Linked DNA regions of Homo sapiens. The protein of the gene in region 6 purifies or fractionates together with the protein of the main gene of each other region. This does not show direct contact. Each region holds a gene or a part of one and is shown on either strand. Other genes may lie near its edges. The genes, in order: HIP1R, PLAA, PTS, FLVCR1, ZDHHC9, TEX29 and STEAP3.

Evidence for each region.
Region 1: the proteins of TEX29 (region 6) and HIP1R purify together in Homo sapiens (affinity purification with mass spectrometry; 3 studies listed by BioGRID and IntAct, with this or other methods). This does not show direct contact.
Region 2: the proteins of TEX29 (region 6) and PLAA purify together in Homo sapiens (affinity purification with mass spectrometry, with the first as the bait; one large-scale study listed by BioGRID). This does not show direct contact.
Region 3: the proteins of TEX29 (region 6) and PTS purify together in Homo sapiens (affinity purification with mass spectrometry; 3 studies listed by BioGRID and IntAct, with this or other methods). This does not show direct contact.
Region 4: the proteins of TEX29 (region 6) and FLVCR1 purify together in Homo sapiens (affinity purification with mass spectrometry; 3 studies listed by BioGRID and IntAct, with this or other methods). This does not show direct contact.
Region 5: the proteins of TEX29 (region 6) and ZDHHC9 purify together in Homo sapiens (affinity purification with mass spectrometry, with the first as the bait; one large-scale study listed by BioGRID). This does not show direct contact.
Region 7: the proteins of TEX29 (region 6) and STEAP3 purify together in Homo sapiens (affinity purification with mass spectrometry; 3 studies listed by BioGRID and IntAct, with this or other methods). This does not show direct contact.

The regions. Positions count from the first base shown.
Region 1 is NC_000012.12:122,848,957-122,852,456, forward strand, and holds part of HIP1R (huntingtin-interacting protein 1-related protein), read left to right. Parts: intron 1-918; coding exon 919-999; intron 1,000-1,878; coding exon 1,879-1,955; intron 1,956-2,279; coding exon 2,280-2,341; intron 2,342-3,500. UniProt on the Homo sapiens protein: Component of clathrin-coated pits and vesicles, that may link the endocytic machinery to the actin cytoskeleton. Binds 3-phosphoinositides (via ENTH domain).
Region 2 is NC_000009.12:26,937,243-26,940,742, forward strand, and holds part of PLAA (phospholipase A-2-activating protein), read right to left. Parts: intron 1-3,500. UniProt on the Homo sapiens protein: Plays a role in protein ubiquitination, sorting and degradation through its association with VCP. Involved in ubiquitin-mediated membrane proteins trafficking to late endosomes in an ESCRT-dependent manner, and hence plays a role in synaptic vesicle recycling.
Region 3 is NC_000011.10:112,231,951-112,234,473, reverse strand, and holds the end of PTS (6-pyruvoyl tetrahydrobiopterin synthase), read right to left. Parts: intron 1,312-2,523; coding exon 1,241-1,311; intron 1,043-1,240; coding exon 919-1,042; 3' UTR 501-918; downstream 1-500. UniProt on the Homo sapiens protein: Involved in the biosynthesis of tetrahydrobiopterin, an essential cofactor of aromatic amino acid hydroxylases. Catalyzes the transformation of 7,8-dihydroneopterin triphosphate into 6-pyruvoyl tetrahydropterin.
Region 4 is NC_000001.11:212,885,775-212,889,274, reverse strand, and holds part of FLVCR1 (choline/ethanolamine transporter FLVCR1), read right to left. Parts: intron 1,385-3,500; coding exon 1,274-1,384; intron 787-1,273; coding exon 681-786; intron 130-680; coding exon 18-129; intron 1-17.
Region 5 is NC_000023.11:129,802,788-129,805,886, reverse strand, and holds the end of ZDHHC9 (palmitoyltransferase ZDHHC9), read left to right. Parts: 3' UTR 1-2,599; downstream 2,600-3,099. UniProt on the Homo sapiens protein: Palmitoyltransferase that catalyzes the addition of palmitate onto various protein substrates, such as ADRB2, GSDMD, HRAS, NRAS and CGAS. The ZDHHC9-GOLGA7 complex is a palmitoyltransferase specific for HRAS and NRAS.
Region 6 is NC_000013.11:111,341,142-111,344,641, reverse strand, and holds the end of TEX29 (testis-expressed protein 29), read right to left. Parts: intron 1,887-3,500; coding exon 1,711-1,886; intron 560-1,710; coding exon 519-559; 3' UTR 394-518; downstream 1-393.
Region 7 is NC_000002.12:119,247,834-119,251,333, forward strand, and holds part of STEAP3 (metalloreductase STEAP3), read left to right. Parts: coding exon 1-373; intron 374-480; exon of another isoform or gene 481-1,238; intron 1,239-3,500.

The DNA.
Region 1 (3,500 bases), on a different chromosome or scaffold from region 6:
GGTTTTCCCAGGGGCGACAGTGGGAGGGGCAGCACGGGGAGATGCTGCCTGCCTTTGAGGGCCTGGCCCAGGGCGCTCCACACGCATAACCAGTGGGCCCTCCAGCGTCGAAGTCACCCGGGCCCTTTAGTCCTCACGAGTTGGGAAATGTGGCAAGACCACAGCCCGGGCACCTCGGTGGTTAGAGAGCCTGTGGCAGGGCGCAGGTTCCTGGGCTCCCCCAGACCTGCTGCTGAAGAATCAGGACTGGAGGTCTGCATTTTGAGCACACACACAGTAAGGCCTGAGAGCCCTGGGGGGCCTGCAATCTGGATGCACTGCAAGACCTCAGGAGTTAGAGATGTCCCTGGTGGGCAGAGGGCCTTGGCCTGGTTCTCTCTGGAGCACTGTGGGGTGCTCGTCTGCCTGGGCAGGGACATAGGAGCAGGGCAGGCCCTGGACCGGGTACCCACAGGGAGGCCTGACCAGGGCGTTATCCAACCCAGAACCACTGCCCGGACTCACTTCCCTTGAAGCGAGGAAAACACTGCCCATGGTGCCACCTGCAGATGCAGGCCCAGCTGGCCCGGCCGCAGGGGCCGTGGGGCTGGAGGAGGGAGCAGGGAGGATGTGTCCAGGCGCCCGTCGGGACGTGCCTCCCTGCCAGCACCAGCACTTTAATAAAGCGTCCCTGCTCAGAACTGGCCTGCCGCCCTGGACAAAGAGCTCTCTTCTCACAAGAGTTTCTTTGGCAGGAATGACAAGGAGGAAGATTAAGGGAAAAAGCTAGAGACAGAGAGGGTGGTTGGTGGAGGCCAGGAGAAGACGTTTGTTGAATGAAGAAGTGCCCGGTGGTGGGTCACTCTCGTGCCCAGGTCCTTGAGGACTCTTGGACGTGTTCACGAGCCGTGGCCCCTCACCCTGTCTGTCTTCACACAGGGACATTTGCATGACCGCTACGGACAGCTGGTGAATGTCTACACCAAGCTGCTGCTGACCAAGATCTCCTTCCACCTCAAGGTGGTTTCCTCGGGGGAGTCATGGGGCTGAGGGACCCGTGGGCTTTTCCCACTGTGACGTTATGGCACATGTTGGGACATCGAGGGTGGGATCTGTCCTCTCCATGAGTCTTTCCATTCACCTTCTTGTCCCAACTATGACTAAAGGGGAGACGGGGAAGCCAGGGCATCACGAAGCTCCTAGAACACTTCAGGCATTTCCGTGGACGTGGGCACGGGCTTCCCCAGGCGTTTCTGTGGACATGAGCGCTGGGCTTCCTCAGTCTCTGCTGTGCTGGCCGGGTGCTCCCCTCCTCCCAACCCCTCCACTGCCCTCTGCCACCTATGTGGGCCACAGCCTGGGTCTGCCAAGAGCAGGGTCCAGCGTGGGGCCCCCTGGTTCAGTGGCCGCTGGGTTGGGGGGGCCCTGGTTCAGTGGCCGCTGGGTGGGGGGGGCCCTGGTTCGGTGGCCGCTGGGTTGGGGGGCCCCCTGGTTCGGTGGCTGCTGGGTGGGGGGGCCCTGGTTCGGTGGCCGCTGGGTGGGGGGGGCCCTGGTTCGGTGGCCGCTGGGTGGGGGGGGCCCTGGTTCGGTGGCCGCTGGGTGGGGGGGCCCCCTGGTTCGGTGGCTGCTGGGTGGGGGGGCCCTGGTTCGGTGGCCGCTGGGTGGGGGGGGCCCTGGTTCGGTGGCCACTGGGTGGGGGGGGCCCTGGTTCGGTGGCCGCTGGGTGGGGGGGCCCCCTGGTTCGGTGGCCGCTGGGTTGGGGGGCCCTGGTTCGGTGGCCGCTGGGTGTGGGGGGCCCTGGTTCAGTGGCCGCTGGGTGGGGGGGAGCCCTGGTTCGGTGGCCGCCAGGTGTGGGGGGGCCCTGGTTCAGTGGCCGCTGGGTGGGGGTTCTCTCCACAGCATCCCCAGTTTCCCGCGGGCCTGGAGGTGACAGATGAGGTACTGGAGAAGGCAGCTGGGACCGATGTCAACAACATGTGAGTCACTCTGCATGGCTACATAGCCAGTTCCCCTCGGCTTCCCCATTCCTTCCTACCGCGTCTCACGCCCAGGCGTCCGCATGGGGCAGTGGGGTTGAATGAGTCCGTGGCTTTGTTGGTTGATGCTCACGCTCCCAGGGACAGAGGGTGAAGTTAAAAGGGTGGGGTGTACTTGAAGGACTGTCGTCCTGGCAGAGGCACGCTGTCTCACCAGAGCCATGGTGTCGGCGGTGCCCCCGTCCCCACTGGAGGGGGCGTCTCAGGACGAGTGGGTGGGTCCACCCACCCTTTTTCATTTCTTCCCCCACTTCTCTTGCGTAGCTTCCAGCTCACTGTGGAGATGTTTGATTACATGGATTGTGAGCTGAAGCTTTCTGAATCAGGTGAGCCGTAAAGAGGGGATGCGGGGGTCTGAGTGTATTGCTAAGTCCCCAGAGATGGGACGAGAAGAAAAAAGAAGACATGAGTGATCAGACCAACTGATCACTATGAAATGACCCTGGCCAGCCGCAGTGGCTCACATCTGTAATCCCAGCATTTTGGGAGGCCGAGGCAGGCAGATTGCTTGAGGTCAGGGGTTCAAGACCAGCCTGGCCAACATGGTGAAACCCTGTCTCTACTAAAAAAATATAAAAATTAGCCAGGCGTGGTGGCGCACGCCTGTATTCCCAGCTACTTGGGAGGCTGAGGCAGGAGAATCACTTGAACCTGGGCGGCGGAGATCATGCCGCTACACTCCAGCCTGGGCAACAGAGTGAGTCTCCGTCTTAAAAAAAAAAAAAAGAAAAAGAAATGCCCCTGCCCCTCCTGGGGTCCCTGCACCTCCAGGGATAGGTAATGGGGCCTCCTGGCCCCTCCAAAGCATGGCAGGCCCCAGCGGGTACATCCAGGATACAGGTTCAGCCATCTCTTCCATCCAGTGAGTGTCACTCCATCAGCCCCAAGACAGGGAGGGTGAGGAGGTGTGCACAGGAGCCACCTTGCCAGGTTCCTGCCCCAGCCTTGGGCCATCTGCAGAGCCCAGCTGGAAGAAAGGTTTGGGTCGTCCTGCCATTTTCTGCTCTAGAAAGCCTCTGAGTCACGTCAGACTTCCTAGCGAGGGAACCCGGCCGCTGTTGGACAGGAAATCTCAGAGGGCTCAGCTTCCAGGCTGGAGAACTGATTGTTCTGGGTGGCAGCTTCAAAACAACTCATGGGTGACTCAGTGCTCTCCATAAGAGGGCAAGAAGCAAATGCCTCCTTAAGGGAAAATTGGGAGTTAGAGGCAGTTTGGGCAGCCTCCCTGAGTCCCCAGGTCTGGCCAGTGCAGCTGGGCGAGCCTGATGGGTATTCAGTTCCAGTGGGTGGGAGGTGGGCTCAGAGTTGGACCCTTGTGCCTGGGAAGAGCCTGCTCAGGATCTGACATGGAGAGCAGAGGGCAGGTGTCCAAAGGTGTGGCCCCAACTGTGCAGCAGGACAGGGCTACCAGGCTCTGTGTCCTGGCAGAGATGTGCTGAGCCTGAGCCTCTCAGCACAGAGCCCACCAGGTAGGAGCCAGTTACC
Region 2 (3,500 bases), on a different chromosome or scaffold from region 6:
ATATATGGAAAAAATTAGAAAGTGAAAGTGCATGCCCAGGGAAAAGCACAGGCTCAGAAAAGACTGAGAAGACTAAGTTTACATCTTAGCCCGATATTTGAAACAAAGACACCCTTCAACAACAACAACAACAAAAAGATAATACACAAAAACATAACAAAAAACAGCAAACCCTGGAAAAGGGGAAGAATATGATTTCTAGAGTTATATTATTAGATTAAATGTTCACTTTCAACCACAACAAAAAAATCACACGCATACAAATAAACAGAAAAGTATGGCCCATTCAAAGGAAAAATTAAGTCAATAGACACTGTCCCTGAAAAAGACCTGGCAGCAGATCTACTAGACAGAGACTTTAAAACAACTGTTTTAAACATGCTCAAAGAACTAAAGGAAGATGGAGAAAGTCAAGAAAATTATGCATGAAGAAAACTGAAGTATCAGTAAAGAGGCAGAAAACCTATAAAGAAACCAAAAAGAAATTATGAAGATGAAAGGTATGATAACTGAAATGAAATTATTCACTAGACAACTTGAAGACAGATTCAAGCAAGAAGAAATAATTAGCAAACTTGAACATAGGACAGTAGAAATTATCAGGTTTGAAGAACACAAAAAAAGACTGAAAAAAAAAAAAATGAACAGAGCCTAAGGGACTTGTGGAACAACATGAGGTAGGCCAGCATACAGATTGTGGCAGTCCTAGAGAGAGGGGAAAGGGAGCAGAGAGAATATCTGAAGAAATAATGGCTGGAAACATCCCAAATTTGATGAAAGACATGAATATAAACATCCAAAGAAACTCAACAAACTCCAAGAAGATAAATTCAAAGAGACCCACACCAAGTCACATTATATTCAAACTTAAGAAAGGGAGATACAAAGAATCTTGAAAGCAGTAAGAAAGAAGTAACTTATCACATACAAGGGATCCTCAATAATATAATTAGTAGATTTCTCATCAAAAACTTTGGAGGTCAAACTGAGTGCAGTAGCACACACCTGTAGTCCCAGCACCTCAGGAGACTGAGATAGGAGAACCGCTTGAGCCCAGAAGTTGGAGGCTGCAGAGTGCTGCGACCACACTCAAGAACAGCCACTGCATTCCAGCCTGGTCAACATAGCGAAACCCCATCTTGAAAAATTTTTTTGGAGCATTAGCTAGGTGTGATAGTACACACCTGTAGTCCCAGTTACTTGGGAGGCTAAGGCGAGAGGATCCCTTGAGCCTGGGAGTTTGAGACTTAAGTGAGCTATGACTGTACCACTGTATGCCCGCCTGGGCCAAAAGAGTAAGACACCATTTCTTAAAAAAAAAAAAAAAAAAAAAAATGGTGAGGGAGTTTGCTGCCATGAGACCTCCCTGTAAGAAATGCTTAAAGGAGCCTTCTCGCACAGTGAAATGAAAACACACTAGACAGACTTGAAGCAATATGAAGAAATAAAGATCTCAATAATGGTAAATACGATAGTGGTTTATAACTCTACCTTTTGATTTCTATGTCATTTAAGAAACATTACATTAAAAAAATTAGCCTAAAAGCTAATGATATTGTAACTTTGGTTTGTAACTCCAAATTTTTCCTACATAATTTCAGAAATTAAGGCATTTAAAGTAATTATTACTTTATGTTTTTAGGACACAGAGTACATACAGATGTAATTCTGTGACACCAACAACCAAAAGGGGTGAAGATGGAGCTATAAAGAAGAATTTTTGTTTGTTATTGAAGTTAAATGTATACATTCAAATTAGAGGATTACAACTTTAGGATATTAAATATAATCCTCATGGTAAACACACACAAAAATAGAATATACACTAAGGAAATGGGGAAGGAATTTAAACATAAATAAACTAGGCCGGGCGCCGTGGCTCACGCCTGTAATCCCAGCACTTTGGGAGGCTGAGGCCGGCGGATCACAAGGTCAGGAGATCGGGACTATCCTGGCTAACACGGTGAAACCCCATCTCTACTAAAAATACAAAAAATTAGCCAGGTGTGGTGGCAGGGGCCTGTAGTCCCAGCTACTCGGGAGGCTGAGGCAGGAGAATGGCGTGAACCCAAGAGGTGGAGCTTGCAGTGAGCCGAGATTGCGCCACTGCACTCCAGCCTGGGCCACAGACTGAAACTCCGTCTCAAAAAAAGATAAAAATAAAATAAATAAATAAACAAACATATAAATAAATAAATCAACTAAACACAAAAGAAGACAGTAATGCAGGAGATGAGAGACCAAAAAAAAAAAAAAAAAAAACCAAACAAACTTTAAGGCATATAGAAAACAGACAGCAAAATGGCATCGGTGATTACTTTCAATGTAAATGAATTAAATTCTCCAATCAAAAGACAAAGATTGGCAGAAACCATTTTAAAAAACATAATCCAGCTCGGTGCTGTTTATGAGACTCACTTTAGATCCAAAGACACAAATATACTGAAAGTGATAGGATGAAACAGGATATTCCATGAAAACAGCAAACAAAAGAAAGCAGGAGCAGCTATATTAACATTAGACAAAATTGACCTTAAATCAAAAAAAGAAAACAAGAGACAAAGAAGGATATTATATATTAATAAAAAGTTCGGTACAGGAAGAAGATATAACAATTATAAACATTTATGCACATAATATATAAAACAAAAACTGACATAATTGAAGTGATATATAGATAGTTCTACAATAATAGTTGAAGACTTCAATATCTCAATCTCAATAATGGATAGAATAATCAGACAGAAAACATGTAAGGAAAAAGAGGACTTAACAAAATAAATCAACTAGAACTAACAGACATACAGAATATACTACGTGAAAGCAAAGACACCTGCTACAGAAAAAAGTATGGAAATTCCTAGAAAAATTAAAAATAAAATTACCATATGACTCAGCAATTCCATTTCTGGATATATTCCCAATGGAAATGAAAGCAGGATCTTAAAGAGATATGTGTATAACCATATTCATAGTAGCATTATTCACAATAGCTCAAATGTGGCATCAACCTAAGTGTCCATCAATGGATGAATAAACAAAATGTGGTATAAACATGAAATTTTATTCAGCCTTAAAAAGGAGGGAAATTCTGACATATGCTACAACATGGAAGAACCTTGAGGACATTGTGCTAAACGAAATAAGCCAGTTATAAAAACACAAATACTGTATGATCCCACTTATATGTGGAACTTAGAGCTGTCAAAATCATACAGACATAAAGTAGAATCGTGGTTGCCAGGGTCTGGGGGTGGAGACAATGAGTTATTGCTTAAACAGGTACAGTTTCAGTGTAAAGAGATAAAAAGAGTTAAAAGATGGATGGTGGTGATGGTTACACATTATGAATATACTTAATACCATTGAACTGTACAGTTTAAAATGGTTAAGATGGCAAATTTTATGTTTTGTGTATTGTATCACAATAAAAAAACTGGAGGAAAAGAATTAACAGCACTATATACCTCCAGAGGTGAGGACAAAGAGGCAGGAACTAA
Region 3 (2,523 bases), on a different chromosome or scaffold from region 6:
GGATTTAGTCACGAGGAAAAGATCCCAGAGAAGAATGCCAAGCATATAGTAAGTTTAATAATCAGAACAAAATGGGATCAATTAGGAAAAACTATATACAGGAAATATTTTATATGGTAGTTGATCCTTTTTATGCTGACTATTTTTTAGAGTTTAAAATATGATTATTCTGCAGTCTTCTGAGTTGAAATTATTCAAGTGCCCATCAGGTTCAGAAATTCAGAGGAGTATACTGAATAATTTACTGATATTCCATGATATGTTTAATGTGTTGTTCCTCACTAGCAATTCATAGTTCAATACGCTGTGCAAAATTGTAATGAATGATGTGCTCTAAAGCAGCATTTCCATCAATATTTGTACGTGTATCCACAACAGATGCCTCACATGATTTGTGTGTCTAATTTTCACTGAATCCACTTATGCCTTCAGCACACCCAACAAGTAGTAATCAAGAGAGTTCAATCTATTAAATATACATATATATATTGTCTCCAGACTTTGTGGTCACTTGAATTTTATTTCTTTAAGATTCACCTACTCGAAGTCACATAAGCATTTTAACCATGTATATTATACCAAGTAAAAATTAATACTAAAATGAGGTAATGGAGAAAACAAAATTAGATTTCTTTTGCTTTCAAATAATCCCACACCAAAACATTTTGTGAAAATGAAGTGATTTTTAATTTATAAATAAAAGACTCTCTAAATGATTTTCAGGATGTATATTACAAGTTTAGTTTTAAATAGACTTAAATTTATAACAGGTCTTACAATGATTTCAATAAATAGGCACTCCAGAGCACAATGTGTACGTACAACAATCACGTGTTGACCTCTTAATATTCCAAGGGGATCAAAATCTTTTTCAAACACAGAAAGAAACTGGGCTTTGTGCAATGCTAACCCCAATAGCTATTCTCCTTTATAAACCACAATATTATTGTCAGTTTCGTATACTTTTACTTTATAAAGAACTCCTACAGGAAGAACTTTCTGGAGGTTGTCCCAGATATAAACAGCTACATTTTCAGTCGTGCTATAAGAAAAAAAAACAAAAACAAAAAAAATTCAAAATGCAAACAATAAAATTTCATGTTTAATATTTACAGAAAATAGAAATTCTAGTTTCGAAAGATTTCATTAAATTAAAACTTCAGAAATCACACAACAATCAAAGTATTCAAATCAATTCTTGTTTTACAATCCACATAAGGCAAGATACAGTGCCACCCACCTCACCACATCTGCAAAGTATGGCACATCCATATCCAGATTCTTATGATCAAGGGGCTGCATAATCGCCTCCTAGAGACAAAACCAAGGGAAAATATCATTGACTCCATTTACGACTCAAATTCCAAATTGTTCCACTTATGCCTCTAAACCTCACCTTATCACTTAGCCACTAACTAAATATTTGTAAGTACTAGATTTGAGTCTTACAAGGCAACTTTACAAAATTTCAAGTTGTAAAATAAAGTCAGGCCCAGCTGTCGGTAATGATTAGGAATCCTTGTTACTGAATAAAAAGAGGTGAGAAACCAAAAAGCAGAGAATTCCTGGAGCTTTCTCGCAACACAAGCCATTGTAATTCAGAATTCAGTTTAACACTTTGTGAATCCTGTCCAAACAGTTAGCACAAATATTTTTCCATAACACTGTCACACCTACGGAACAATGCCACAATATCATAAGGACAAAGATCCAGTGACTACTACATTTTATAAAGCAGACCTAGACTGAAATTATGTAAGTAGTTCTAAATTTTTGCTATGAGGAATAATTTAAGAATGATCTTGGGCTCATAGAAGGAAAAATATATATATGTAAAGACTATTACTCCCTAATGCTCGTGTATATTAACATAATGTTTTTCCTCATCATCAGCAAGGATTAAATTGCCTCATTCTTTCTAGGTTTTTGCTTTTAGCTATTGCAAAAAATCTAAGCATCTGTGAAAAAAAAATGTAATTTTCCATAGGACGTAGTTTGAAGAAGGGTACATTAATAACAGTAACAGCAATCATTTCTTGAGAAAAACTAGAATCATACAAAAAGAGTAAGTCCTAGATCAAACAGTTATTGAAATATATCCAATGAAGGGATGTTCCACATGAATAACAAGAAAACGGGCATCCTTGCTTCATCTTCAATCCCAGTTCCAGTCCCAATTTCTCCATTAAAGCCTCTTATGCAGGGCTTTTTGTTTTCTTTTGTTTTGTTTTTAGAGACAGGGTCTCTGTCATCCAGGCTGGAGTGCAAGTGGCATAATCATAGCTCACTGCAGCCTTGAACTCCTGGACTCAAGCAATCCTCCCCCCACGGTAGAGCTCTAACTTTACTCTACATGCCATGATAAGCCACTTTTACTGATGAAAGTGTGTGGTGTCCTTCAGGCATACAAAAGCAGAAAACAGCATAGAGAAGCCCTCCTCCAGTATTTAGTCATATGTTGAGGCCTTTTATGTTGCTGTCTTGTCTCTTTTCTTTCTTTTCTTTTCTTTTCTCTTTTTCTTT
Region 4 (3,500 bases), on a different chromosome or scaffold from region 6:
CAAACGCCCTAATTTACCTGTTAATATGATGCCTATAAACATCCAGACACAGAGAAAAATGTTCCCTGCCTTAGGACCATAGTCTGATGTGAGCTTTCCTTGAGCCAATGTGAACAAAATTCCAAATATCTAAAATACAATAAGAAAAATCATTCGTTATTAAGTTAAATTATTTAAAGCAAGTATAAAGTTTTCACCAGAACTTTTCTTATTTTGGTTATATGATTTGGTTTCTAGAAACATTCATTGAAAAGTTGAATTGTTAAAACAAAAACCACGGTCAGGCTGGGTGCAGTGGCTCACACCCACTGTAATCCTAGCACTTTGGGAGTTGAGGTAGGCGAATTGCTTGAGCCCAGGAGTCCGAGACCAGCCTGGACAACATGGCAAAACACCATCTCTACAAAAAATAACAAAAAAAATTTAGCTGGGCATGCTGGTGTGCACCTGCAGTCCCAAAAACTCTGGAGGCAGAGGGGGGAGGATTGCTTGAGCCTAGGAGTTTGAGGCTATAGTTAGCCATGACTGCACTACTGCACTCCAGCTTGGATGGCTGAGCAAGACTCTGTCTCCAAAAAACAAAACAACAACAACAACAAATAAAACCATGGTCAAACTCATTACTCACTAGAATATCTGGTATAATAATCATCTCAGGTTTAGAGAAATCAGAGGTTTACCTGTGCAGAAGCATTAAGAAGACCAGATGAAGTACCTTCAGATTCAGGGTAAGTGATTTCAACAGCAAATTCAAAACCCAAAGGGAGGTAACCAGTCATGAAGAAGCTAGGAAAATAAATCCAGAATTACAGAAAGAACTACCAGAAAGTCACAATCACATACTGATGCAATCATTCTGCCTCTCGGGCTTATTCTAATGACCAAATAAGTGAATATTTTGAAGTTGCTATGTCAAAGTAAGGAACTATTATCATTGACCAATCAGCTCAAGGTTACAGAACTGGAAGCAACAAATACACATTTTTTTCTGAGAAAAATTTACTTCTAGTTTTATAAGTTGATTGTAACCAAATAAAGTTACACAGATTAAGTAAGGCTCATCCATTTTTTACCTATGGTATACCAAAAACCAATTTTAAATAATTTTTAATAGTTCTTAAGAATTACATGTTTATATGCATAGAATGAATCCTTTAAAGTTTAAAATATTGAAGAAACTTTGGATGAACTGAAAAAATTAAAGACCAGAGTAATAATACTTCAGAATTATAACAGCATGCTATCATTCCTCCTAAACACATCTGATACTTACCCAAGCACCCCTCCAGTAACAAACACGATGATAATATATCTAAGGTCCAATGTGAAAGTAAAGATAACCATTCCAATAAAAGACAAAATATAAACTATCAGAGTAGTCTGTCTAAAACAAAAACAACAAAGCTGTTAGTATTTTGTCTGATTCTCCTAGGAATACAAAAATCATCACTCTTACCTGTTCAGTAATGAATCTTTGTTTTTCAAAGTTCACCCCTTCTTGTCCATGGAAATATGTATCCACCAAAGCACAAATTTTAAAGCATTTTTAATTTAAGATTCAGCAGCACCAGAAAACCACACCATATCGAATGCTCAGATAGGATCCTTTTATAGGAATAAAATCATTTTTATGCCACCAAATGGGATAGTTCCCTATTCACATTTCAAGATTCAGATCAAATTCTACCTCTTCCAAATGCCTTCTGTAACGACACCAGTTTATAAGAGTCTCTCTTTCTTCCAAATTCCCTTATCATACTGGCACTATAAAACTTATGACATCTATTTTAGTTTGTTATATTATTTAACTTTTCACATGTGAATGCCTTATTTGCTCCATTTAGACCACAAACATCTTAAGAACAGGGATCACATAATGCCAGCCATAATTTTCATCTAAGAAAGATGCACACAACAGGAGTTTGGTGAATGAATGGCAGTTACCCTGAGAAGGAAGCCACAGTGGCAAAGAACACACATCTATGCCTATCAAGTTTTCTAAATGTATAACGGATGAAAGACTTAAGAAATATAATCCTTTACATATGCTCCCTTCATCTATATATCAAGTAGGTTTCACTCTAAGCTATCATTTTAAAATAATGAAGCTAAGGCAAGTGCTGTCTTAAATTATGGAAGAATATGGAGAATTTCAAGATTAGAGATACTTTTGGTAGCGTTTAGACTAATAATATCAAATATATCTTGAGCCTTGAAAGGTACACGGGACACAGTTCCATATTTCATTCATTTATTCCTTAATAGTTTCATTCATTCATTTCCAAGTACAGGGGTAAGTTTTGGCATGTTACAAAATGTGGTGATTCTTTTCACTCCCAGAGCAAAATATGCTGCCTCTGAAACCCCTTTCTTAGTCTCCCAGTTGGTATCATTCATTTTCTTTGGTATTAGCCTTTTGGTGGTTCCATATAATGTACAATTAACAGAGTATATTCTTTTTTTTTTATTTTTTTAGACAGCGTCTTGCTCTGTCACCCAGGCTGGAGACCAGTGGCACGCTATCTCAGCTCGCTGCAACCTCTGCCTCCTGGGTTCAAGCAATTCTCCTTCCTTAGCCTCCTGAGTAGCTGGGATTACAGGTGCCCACCACCACACTTGACTATTTTTTGTATTTTCAGTAGAGATGGCGTTTCACCATGTTGCCCAAGCTGGTCTCGAACTCCTGGCCTCAAGCAATCTACCCGCCTTGGCCTCCCAAAATGCTGGGATTACAGGCATAAGACATTGTGTCAAACCAGCATTTTCACATTATGCATTATATTACAGTTAAGTGGTACTGTAGTCTGGGCGTACTTTAGCCAAAAAGTTCTTACCAAAATAAAGCCTTATGCTCAACAATAATTTTTTGATTGGAAAGAACTACTTTTTTGTTTTTGTATTTAAGCCCACAACATAAAAAAAGAACAACATAGGCCAGGTGCAGTGGCTCATGCCTGTAATCCCAGCACTTTGGGAGGCTGAGGTGGGCAGATTGCCTGACCTCAGGAGTTCAAAATCAGCCTGGGCAACATGGTGAAACACTGTCTCTATCAAAAAGTCAAAAAATTAGCCGGGTGTGGTGGCGCACACCTGTGGTCACAGCTACTCAGGAGGCTGAGGTGGGAGAATCACTTGAGCCTGGAAAGCAGAAGTTGCAGTGAGCCAAGATGGTGCCACTGCACTCCAGCCTGGGTGACAGAGTGAGACCCCACCTAAAAAAAAAAAAAAAAAAGAACAAGATAAAGTCTATCAAAAGTCAAATATTTCTCAGAAATGGCTCTTTTTAGAATAGAAATAATTCCTTCGGAAGTGGTAGGTATGAGTACTGTTAGAAAGAAGGGGCTCATAAGGTATCCAAGTTCTCAGAATTGAAATAAATGTGACCAATAAAATAATACAATACATAGAGTATTGAAACACTTGTTGCTGGGCGCGGTGGCTCACGCCTGTAATCCCAGCACTTTGGGAGGTCGAGGCGGGTGGATCACAAGGTCAGGAGA
Region 5 (3,099 bases), on a different chromosome or scaffold from region 6:
GGGTCAGAAGATTCTCCTGGCCACCAAGTGCCAGCATTGCCCACAAATCCTTTTAGGAATGGGACAGGTACCTTCCACTTGTTGTATTTATTAGTGTAGCTTCTCCTTTGTCTCCCATCCACTCTGACACCTAAGCCCCACTCTTTTCCCATTAGATATATGTAAGTAGTTGTAGTAGAGATAATAATTGACATTTCTCGTAGACTACCCAGAAACTTTTTTAATACCTGTGCCATTCTCAATAAGAATTTATGAGATGCCAGCGGCATAGCCCTTCACACTCTCTGTCTCATCTCTCCTCCTTTCTCATTAGCCCCTTTTAATTTGTTTTTCCTTTTGACTCCTGCTCCCATTAGGAGCAGGAATGGCAGTAATAAAAGTCTGCACTTTGGTCATTTCTTTTCCTCAGAGGAAGCCTGAGTGCTCACTTAAACACTATCCCCTCAGACTCCCTGTGTGAGGCCTGCAGAGGCCCTGAATGCACAAATGGGAAACCAAGGCACAGAGAGGCTCTCCTCTCCTCTCCTCTCCCCCGATGTACCCTCAAAAAAAAAAAAATGCTAACCAGTTCTTCCATTAAGCCTCGGCTGAGTGAGGGAAAGCCCAGCACTGCTGCCCTCTCGGGTAACTCACCCTAAGGCCTCGGCCCACCTCTGGCTATGGTAACCACACTGGGGGCTTCCTCCAAGCCCCGCTCTTCCAGCACTTCCACCGGCAGAGTCCCAGAGCCACTTCACCCTGGGGGTGGGCTGTGGCCCCCAGTCAGCTCTGCTCAGGACCTGCTCTATTTCAGGGAAGAAGATTTATGTATTATATGTGGCTATATTTCCTAGAGCACCTGTGTTTTCCTCTTTCTAAGCCAGGGTCCTGTCTGGATGACTTATGCGGTGGGGGAGTGTAAACCAGAACTTTTCATCTATTTGAAGGCGATTAAACTGTGTCTAATGCAAACTTCCTGCCTCCTCCTTCCCCCTTCCATTTCAAGAATATGTTTGTGTGTAGGGTGGGGGTGGGGGTTGGAAGGGGTTGCTTGTTACTCCCCAAACTTCCATTAACCAGGGCACCCTTGGGTTGGAGAGGTAGTTCCAAACTCTCCATTGATCTATACTACATTCTGGGCTGAAGGTTTTCTTATTCTGGACTATGAAGAAAGGACTTTCAAGGAGATATAGTGTGAACAGGATCAGGAAGGTAGAGGGATTATATTTACTTAAGAGAACAAGCTCTATATTAGGATATTGTTTTGAAGCAGATGGATGCCGTTAATTGCTAATAAGTCTTAGTTATTAACGCAGGCTCATCAGGGCCCCCCCTTGGAAATATTTGATCAGTGGTCTTTTACAAGTGATGGTATATATTTCTTTCTAGGTGGTGTATAATCAAGACTCCCTATCAATTCCCATCTCATACTTCCCAGTTAATTGGAATTAATGAAATTTGGCTGCTCCCAGACCTTTTTCCATGTCTTCCTTTTTCCTTTTAACAGGATTTAAGTTGAGCATTCTTGAGAGAGAGAGAGAGAGAGAGATTGGAAGAGAGATGGGGAGAGACTGACTCAGATCCCTCTCCTGTCTGCTTCTTTTTCTGGTTCTCTCAGTTTTTTTTCTTGAAGTTATAAAGCCAAACCTGGAGAATTTGTAAGTTGTTAGGTTTCCCCAGGTAACTTGGCACTCATATGAACCCCATTTTAATAAGTACTCAGCCCATCTCCTCTCCTGGGCTCAGATGGCTCTCTCTCCTCCCTCACCTTACCTCAAGTGTTCTCCTGAGGACCCTTAGGTCAGACAGAGAAGCTTTCTCTTTCTGATGGGAAGGGTCAAAGTGGAAATCTCTTATCTCTAGTGTGAAATGATTTTCTGCTTTTTCATACTCCCTGCCCTCTTTCTTTTCCTTAATAAATCTTCCATGTTTAAGATGTTGGCCTGAAGATCTGTCCCATTCATACCATGCACCAGCTGGGACTGTCCCTATCTGATCAGAGGGGAGATTAAAGAATCAATGTTCCCAGGGGAAAAGGGCCTTAAATTGTTTGGTCTTTTCAATGGCTGACACTGTCTCCAACTCTCCCCTTCCTCCTTCTTCCTCAAGCTTCCTATGCACCCTACTTTCCCAGGCCAGGATGGTTGGCACTGATCCCAAACCTCTGGGGGCAGGTGGAAATTGGCTGTGGTGAGCCATTTCTTCATGTCCATTCAGCTCTGAGGCCTTCCTGGCCCTAGCTGAGATCATCATCTCCTCCTTTGCTTTTACCCCAGGAGTGAGGTTGGGTTAGAGGTGGATTCTGATTCCGTAGCAGCTAAATTCCATTCTCCCTGTCCTGACCATCCTGCCTTTACCCATAAAGCACCCGTTCCTACTGACCAAATCTCTTTACTTTGTTGGAGAAAAAAAGTATTTTGTTTTTAAATCTATTTTCTAATTTAAATGCAATTTAATATGTAAATCTCTGCACTTTTGTGTGAGCCTACAAATGTGTATGTGTTGGGGGTTTTTCACTCTCTGGTATTTCTTAATAAAGAAATCTTTCTTTTGGGGGGAAGCCAATTAATGAAGGAGCCTTGAATGGTTTTAGAAATACAGGGCTGTCTGTTTCTTTGTGCTTCTGCCTCATTTCTTTACTTGTGCCTAGTGTGAGTGATTGGACTCCCTCCCCCACCTTTTGACCCCCTTCCTCTGAGAGGGCCCTCAACTTAGTGGGGGCAGAGAGAAGGACCTGTCCTGTATCTGGTACCCCTCTGGGACCACTTGGATTGGCTCTAGTAGTAACCTAGCAACCCAGCCCCCTCCCCTCTCCCCATGGCCTGGCCCTGTTAGTCCTTTTCTTCCAGCTCAGTTCATTTTATACTCCTGAGTTGGGGCCAGGCCAGGGGAAATCACCAAGGGAGCACAGTAAATGGTTTTAAAAAAATGATAATTCGTTCTCATGCCTTGGTGCTACTAAAGAAGAGTCATGTTCCCAGTAATTCAAAAAGCATTTGTGTCAGTTTGGAGAATACATTCTAGGAATCTCTTGCTGTTCTTGGTGATAGGCTTTAGAAACAGTGTCAAAGGCTACAACTCTGAATATCATTTGTTTTAAAGGATGCAAGCCCAGCTCAC
Region 6 (3,500 bases):
AGCATCTGTCGGCCACTCTGGGACTGAGCGCACTGCCTTGCATGAGGGGCTCTCAGGCAGCTACGGCCTATGCTTTGGGGCCTCTCAGATCCAGATCCAGACGCTGCTCCTCCCTCGCAGCACGGCTGAGTCCTAGCAAAGCCAAATGCCAGAGTCTTGAACCGCCTGTGTCTGTGTGGCAGCCCACTCTTGGTGAAAGTGCAGCCTGCCTTCTGAAAAGAAGACCTCGAGGACACCACCTTGAGCCCATGCTGTGAGCCCCCATAGTGTTAATATTAGTGACAAGCAGTGCCATTAAAAACTGAAAGTTCAGGTTCCCACTCTCCTACCCCACAGGCTTTCTCTCTCCTAAGATAAAAATATAGCAATGAATAAGCAACATCGGACGAGAAGCAATTTTCAAAATACCTTTATTTTTTTCTCTTTGGGTGGTCATTCCATCACACTGTTAACAGTGCACCTGCTGTACCATTTCATTTGGATAATTCTGACAATCTCCACTTCTTCATGCGTCTCAGTCAGTCCTCAGTTTCTTCGGCTTCTGTTATTGTCCCTGTTACTAGATTTTTAGAAAAGAAGAATTGTTTTTTCAAATGGAATATTCAGCAGTCCCGAAAAGATTTCATCAGGATCTTTGAACCCATCTACATGGTGTCTGATTGGCAATGATTGATTCAAAAGCCAGTTTTGGGGATGGCCGTATCCTCCTATGTTTCTCATTGCATTCTAGGGGACAGTAAAACACTCTTCCTCCCACATCATCTCTCTACACAGGAGGCTCCCTTAACCAGGCAAACATCTGTCCTGCAGGAAAGCCTCATTTGCACAGACGCAGCCTCAGTTAGGGGCCAGGCATTCCAGATCTGAAATCAAGTGTGGGTTGCCCTCTTACCCTGCCTCCTGATTTTCCTGATGGTCCCTGTAAAGCCAAGTCTATTTGGTAACAATGGGTAAGGCCAGGCCGTTTGTATCCTGTACAAACATCTCTGAAGATAAGGATTACCATTTGAGATGTTTCTTTCTCTAACCTGGCAAGGTGCTGATCTAGGAAAAGCAACCGGCAACCTCCAAGGGCCCCCAAAGCAGGTAAACCAACATATGAGAAACTTTCCTTCCTGGAAACCGAAGCAGGCATAGAGTGATCGTCCACCTCTCCAACCACGACCACCACGTGGCCAGGGCACCACAAAGAGTACCCACAGCAGCCCTGCAGCCTCCCCGCACATCCACGACCACCAGGCGGCCAGGGCACCACAGAGAATACCCACAGCAGCCTGGCAGCCTCCCTGCACAACCAAGACCACCACGTGGCCAGGGTGCCACAGAGAGTACCCATGGCAGCCCTGCAGCCTCCCCACAGGAAGTCACCTGATCAAATGTGCAGTTTCTGCAGGACTCTTGCCCCCTCCCCAGGAGCTTCCCACACTAACAATGAGGGCCCCGCCAGAGGGTGAAATGACAGGGAGGCAAAAGGGGATGGGAAGGGGGAGGACAAGACTCACAGAAGGAAACTCACACTGACAGCCACATCCACCCTGCAAACCTGAACCTCCAATGTTGGGTACATTACAATTTTGAACAAACTGCAACACTGATCACTGAGGTTGAAGGGCCTGTGTAGATGTTGAGCCCCTTCCCAGGGAAGGTCTCCCGAGGGAACAGAGCCACGCCCTTGACCTTAGGCTGAGGATCATTCCAGAAGCTTCTCACCATCATCCTTATCCTCGTCACTCTTCATCGAGGGCCCAGCACTTGGAGGCCCAGGACTCGCAGGCTTCAGCCCTAACTTGCTGCTGGATGAGGCCAACTCCGCCTTTTCGCTGGACTTCTGTGGCAGCGCGACATCCACAGGGATGGCCTTTTCTTTCCTGCTCTCCTGAATGACTCTGATGGGAAGAGGGTTTTATCACAGTCAGGGAAGTTACAGATGGAAAACTCTCCAGTTCCTCCCTCCCACCCACCAGGACATCCCTCTGAAAACACAGGTTCCTGATCATGCATACTTATTTTTTAAGGTAAATGCTTTGATGTAATAGTTCTCATTTTCGTTTCTTTCTCTCTCTCTTTTTTTTTTTTTTTTTTTTGAGACAGTTTTGATCTGTCATCCAGGCTGGAGTGCAATGGCACAAACACGGCTCACTGCAGCCTCCAACTCCCGGGCTCAAGTAATCCTCCCACCTCAGCCTCCCAAAGTGCTGGGAGATTACAAGTATGAGCCACCACATCCAGCCTCATTTTAGTTTCTTGTGCAGGCTCCAAACAGATGGCTGTATGAGGCAGCTAGACTCCCAAAGACAGCTCCGGGCAGGGGGAAGGTGTGTGTTGCACTGCAGGCTACTGCCGGCTCATCTTCATGATTAACACACATAAGACAGCATACAGCACCACTCATGGTAGGAAAATGGCTTTACTCATTCCTGGACAAAGAGACTCAAATAATCTCAGGGGCTTGTATGCACACAGAGTGGGCTCATGGTGAAGGTGGTGGCCGGGGAGTGAGATGCTGGATTCCAGCCCTGCCCTGGGAATAGCCACCTGCTTCCTTGGCCCCCCGGGTCTGCATTTCCTCACCATTAAAATGAGAGGGAGTGGACTCATCTCTGAGACACCTCCAAACCCTGACACCCTGCAATGAGGACGCAGGCCACAGGCCAAGAGATGCAGGCAGCCTTGGGTTCAGGGACTCTGAGACAACTGGGAGCCTGAGTTAGAGCCTCACTGCCCCATCCATCAGCCTCGGGACCCCCTCGATGCTGCGTCAATCATCCCAGTCCGGGGACAGTAAGTTCACTTACATCGTCAGTGGCTTCAAGGGCTGAAAAGGCTGAGCAGAGCTCTTAAGAGTCTTAGGTGCTCACTAAACACGGGTTATGATGTTCATCAACAAGCACAGGTGCTCACTAAACACGGGTTATGATTTTCATCAACAAGCACAGGTGCTCACTAAACACGGGTTATGATTTTCATCAACAAGCACAGGTGCTCACTAAACACGGGTTATGATTTTCATCAACAAGCACAGGTGCTCACTAAACACGGGTTATGATTTTCATCAACAAGCACAGGTGCTCACTAAACACGGGTTATGATTTTCATCAACAAGCACAGGTGCTCACTAAACACGGGTTATGATTTTCATCAACAAGCACAGGTGCTCACTAAACACGGGTTATGATTTTCATCAACAAGCACAGGTGCTCACTAAACACGGGTTATGATTTTCATCAACAAGCACAGGTGCTCACTAAACACGGGTTATGATTTTCATCAACAAGCACAGGTGCTCACTAAACATGGGTTATGATGTTCATCAACAAGCACAGGTGCTCACTAAACACGGGTTATGATGTTCATCAACAAGCACAGGTGCTCACTAAACACGGGTTATGATGTTCATCAACAAGCACAGGTGCTCACTAAACACGGGTTATGATGTTCATCAACAAGCACAGGTGCTCACTAAACACGGGTTATGATTTTCATCAACAAGCACAGGTGCT
Region 7 (3,500 bases), on a different chromosome or scaffold from region 6:
CCTGCTGGCCCTGGGGCTCTTCGTCTGCTTCTATGCCTACAACTTCGTCCGGGACGTTCTGCAGCCCTATGTGCAGGAAAGCCAGAACAAGTTCTTCAAGCTGCCCGTGTCCGTGGTCAACACCACACTGCCGTGCGTGGCCTACGTGCTGCTGTCACTCGTGTACTTGCCCGGCGTGCTGGCGGCTGCCCTGCAGCTGCGGCGCGGCACCAAGTACCAGCGCTTCCCCGACTGGCTGGACCACTGGCTACAGCACCGCAAGCAGATCGGGCTGCTCAGCTTCTTCTGCGCCGCCCTGCACGCCCTCTACAGCTTCTGCTTGCCGCTGCGCCGCGCCCACCGCTACGACCTGGTCAACCTGGCAGTCAAGCAGGTACCCACCCCATGCCCTTCCTCCCTCTGGCAACTCAGCACATGCTTGTCCAGCACCTCCCCCCCCCACCAACCAGGTGCAGCCGATACCCACGGGTGCAGCCTTACCAGGTGCCAACTGCAGATTCTGTTCCAATGGGGCAGCACCCACATCCTCCTGCCCAAGATTTTGAGTATCAGTGAACAAAGCAGATGAAAATTCCTGCCCCCATGGGTACAGCCCAGTTGGGGCAGACTTAAACAAAATACAGCAGTGAGTCATAGTGGGCGTTGAGAGGATCAGGAGTGCTAAGGCGCAAAGGAAAGCAAGCGTGGGCGGTGGGGGTGCAGGTTTGAAGATGGTCCAGGAGGACTTGCAGAGTGAGTGCTATGTGAGCAGAGCTGGAAGGAGGGGAGAGGGGCCGGTGGCCTGCTGGGGTGATGTTGCAGGCCACGGGGCATAGTCCTTGGGCAGAAGTGTGCCTGGTACGTTGGAGGAGCAGCCAGGAGGCCCATGTGGCTAAAGCTGAACAAGGAGGGGGTGGCAGGCGAGGCCTGAGAGGAAGAGCTTCAGCCTTAGGCTCCGAGTGAAATAGGGAGCTGGTGAAGGTTTGAATTTAGGTGTTGATCGGCCTGACATTTTAAGTGGTTCTCTCTGGTTTTTGGCTGAGAACAGACTGTAGGAGGTCAAAGGCAGCTAGCTGCTGGGGCCAGCGAGGAAGCCGTGCATATGCCCAGATTTGAGGCAGTGGAGGCTGGAGGCAGTGGGAGCAGTGGAGGAGCAAGGAGATCCTGAAGGCACATGTGAAGCTGGAGTGCATGGAATTGCCGCTGGAATGGCCCCAGGGTTTTGTGGGTGATCAGGGATGACTCTGGGGTTTGGGTCTGAGCACCTGAAAGAGAGAGTTGCCATCAGCTGAGATGGGGAAGGCTGCAGGAGTGAGCATTCCAGGTTTAGGTTTGTTGTTGTTGTTGTTGTTCTTTGTTTGTTTTACTGGGGGTGGCACTAATCATTCATTTAGAAAATTCATATGGGGCTTGGTTGCCAGCAGGGTTCCTGGGAAGTGGAGGACCTTCAGGCCACACCAGGTGGGGACCCAGGCATCAGCTGGCACCTGTGCCCACAGAAACAGGCCCCTGATGCTCCCTCCTGGTCCACAAGCTCATGGGGCTTGATTCTTAGTCCCAAGCTCACATCTTCAGCAACACTGTCTTTATTTTCTCCAAATTAATTCCACCTCCAGTGCCCAGCCCCGGGGCTGGTTGATGCATAGGTCCTGCCCACTCCAGGACGCTAGTCACCCAACAGGGTTCAGCCCAGGTGCTGGTGAGACACTTCTCATCCACCCCTCATTCCAGCCTGGCAGCCCCTGCAGCTCCTGCTCCTGCTCAGAATGCAGGGACCTTGGTGAGGCTGGGCCCTCCCCTAAACACCTAGCACAGGGCCATCCCCTCCGAGCATGGGGGATTGGCAGGACTGGGAAGCAGGGCTGGGCACCTCCTGAGAACCACAGACCTCAGCCCCTACTCACTGTCAGGGTTGCTGCTTCTCTGCCAGCAGCTACTCGACTGCCCTCGTCCTTTGCCACCCACAGATACCGGCATCATTGCATCTGTGGGCTCAGAATTTCCTAAGACAAAGGAAGAACCCCAGACTTCAGGCAGAAAAGCAAGATGCTTGATGGAAATGAGAGGAAGGGAAGAAATCAGTCATGAACCCTTAACAAGAGCTCGCTGTGTTCCAGGAACCATTCTAAGAGCTTCGTACACCACTGTGAATTCATTTAACCCCATCTCATCCCTGTAGGCCAGGTGCTATTATATCCTTATTTCATAGATGAGAAATCTGAGGCACAGAGGGGTCAAGTAACTTGGCCAAAGTCACACAGTCAGTAAGTAGCACAGCTGGGATTCAGATCCAGCTATTTTCCAGATCCATGCTTATACCCACGCTGCTTTCTACAGGCAAACCAAATTCACAATTGAGTAAATGATTTCAGAACTAGGTCATTCATTCACTCATTCACTGAGCACCTACTCTGCCAGGCCCTGGGGCCACAGAAAGGAGTAAGAAAGACACAGACCATCTGGCTCCTCGCCTCAGCTGGTGTGGGGCGGTGTGGAGGCCTGAAGGCTAGAGGCTGGACTCCTGCTCTCCAGCATCGCTGACTGGAACAAAGATCTTGACCTTGAGCAAGTCACAGCCCCTCTTTTGTCCTCGAGGCCCTGATGTGTAGATCAAGCTCTCTCCTAGTGCTAATGTTTTCAATGCTCTTTGACGATATTTTCTTACTGACTTCTACAAAGCACCAGCCCCTTGGCAGGAGGCTCTGCGGGGCTCCCTGGGGACTAGTACAATGTTGCTGCCCAGGACGGGGCAGATCTGCATGGAGGAGCCCACTCCCTCTCCCCTGAGCTGGCAGGTATTTCCAGCAGCAGTGGGAAAGACGGGGACGGTGCCCACTACCCCCCAGGGTAAAAGACACACCACTGCTCCCTCCCTCCCCTGCCACCCTTCAACTGCCTTTGTCTAAATTCTCTGCCCTGCCAAGGCTCTCCCTGATATTCTGTTAACCCAATTCTGCCCTGATGCAAATACCAGGGCACAGAGGGGCGCATGCAAGGTAATTTTCCCCGTGTCCCAAAAATCTTTAGGGCTGCAGGCCCTGGTGAGGTTGCCAGGCAACCATCCCTCCCGCAGGACGAGATCAGTCAGAGACACCGAAGGCCTCTCATGCAAAGGGGCTTAAACTTGTTCTGCAGAGTTCTTAAGGGCAAAACCAGGGCTGATGTGGTTATGTCGGGGTGGGTGGTCGGAGGGAGGCAGGGGCTTGACACACAGCAGCCCAGATACGGGGAGGTGCCCAAGCCTGGGCACATCCAAGCAGATTCTGGATGGTCCATGGTAAGCCATGCCCGCGGTTCTGGGCCTGGGCACCTGAGGCTGTTCTGCCTTCAGCCCCAAACAGCAGGGACTCCTGGGTGGCTCAGGCTTGATGTGTGGCTTCTGCTGCCAGCCCATGGGCACCTCACCACAGGGTCCCCACATGGCCACTCACCACCCCAACTGCCCACTAGGCCCTTGGGTCAAGGGAGCACATTAGTCTAGGCACAAGAAACTCCTCCAAGATTTCCTTACAGCCCTGAGT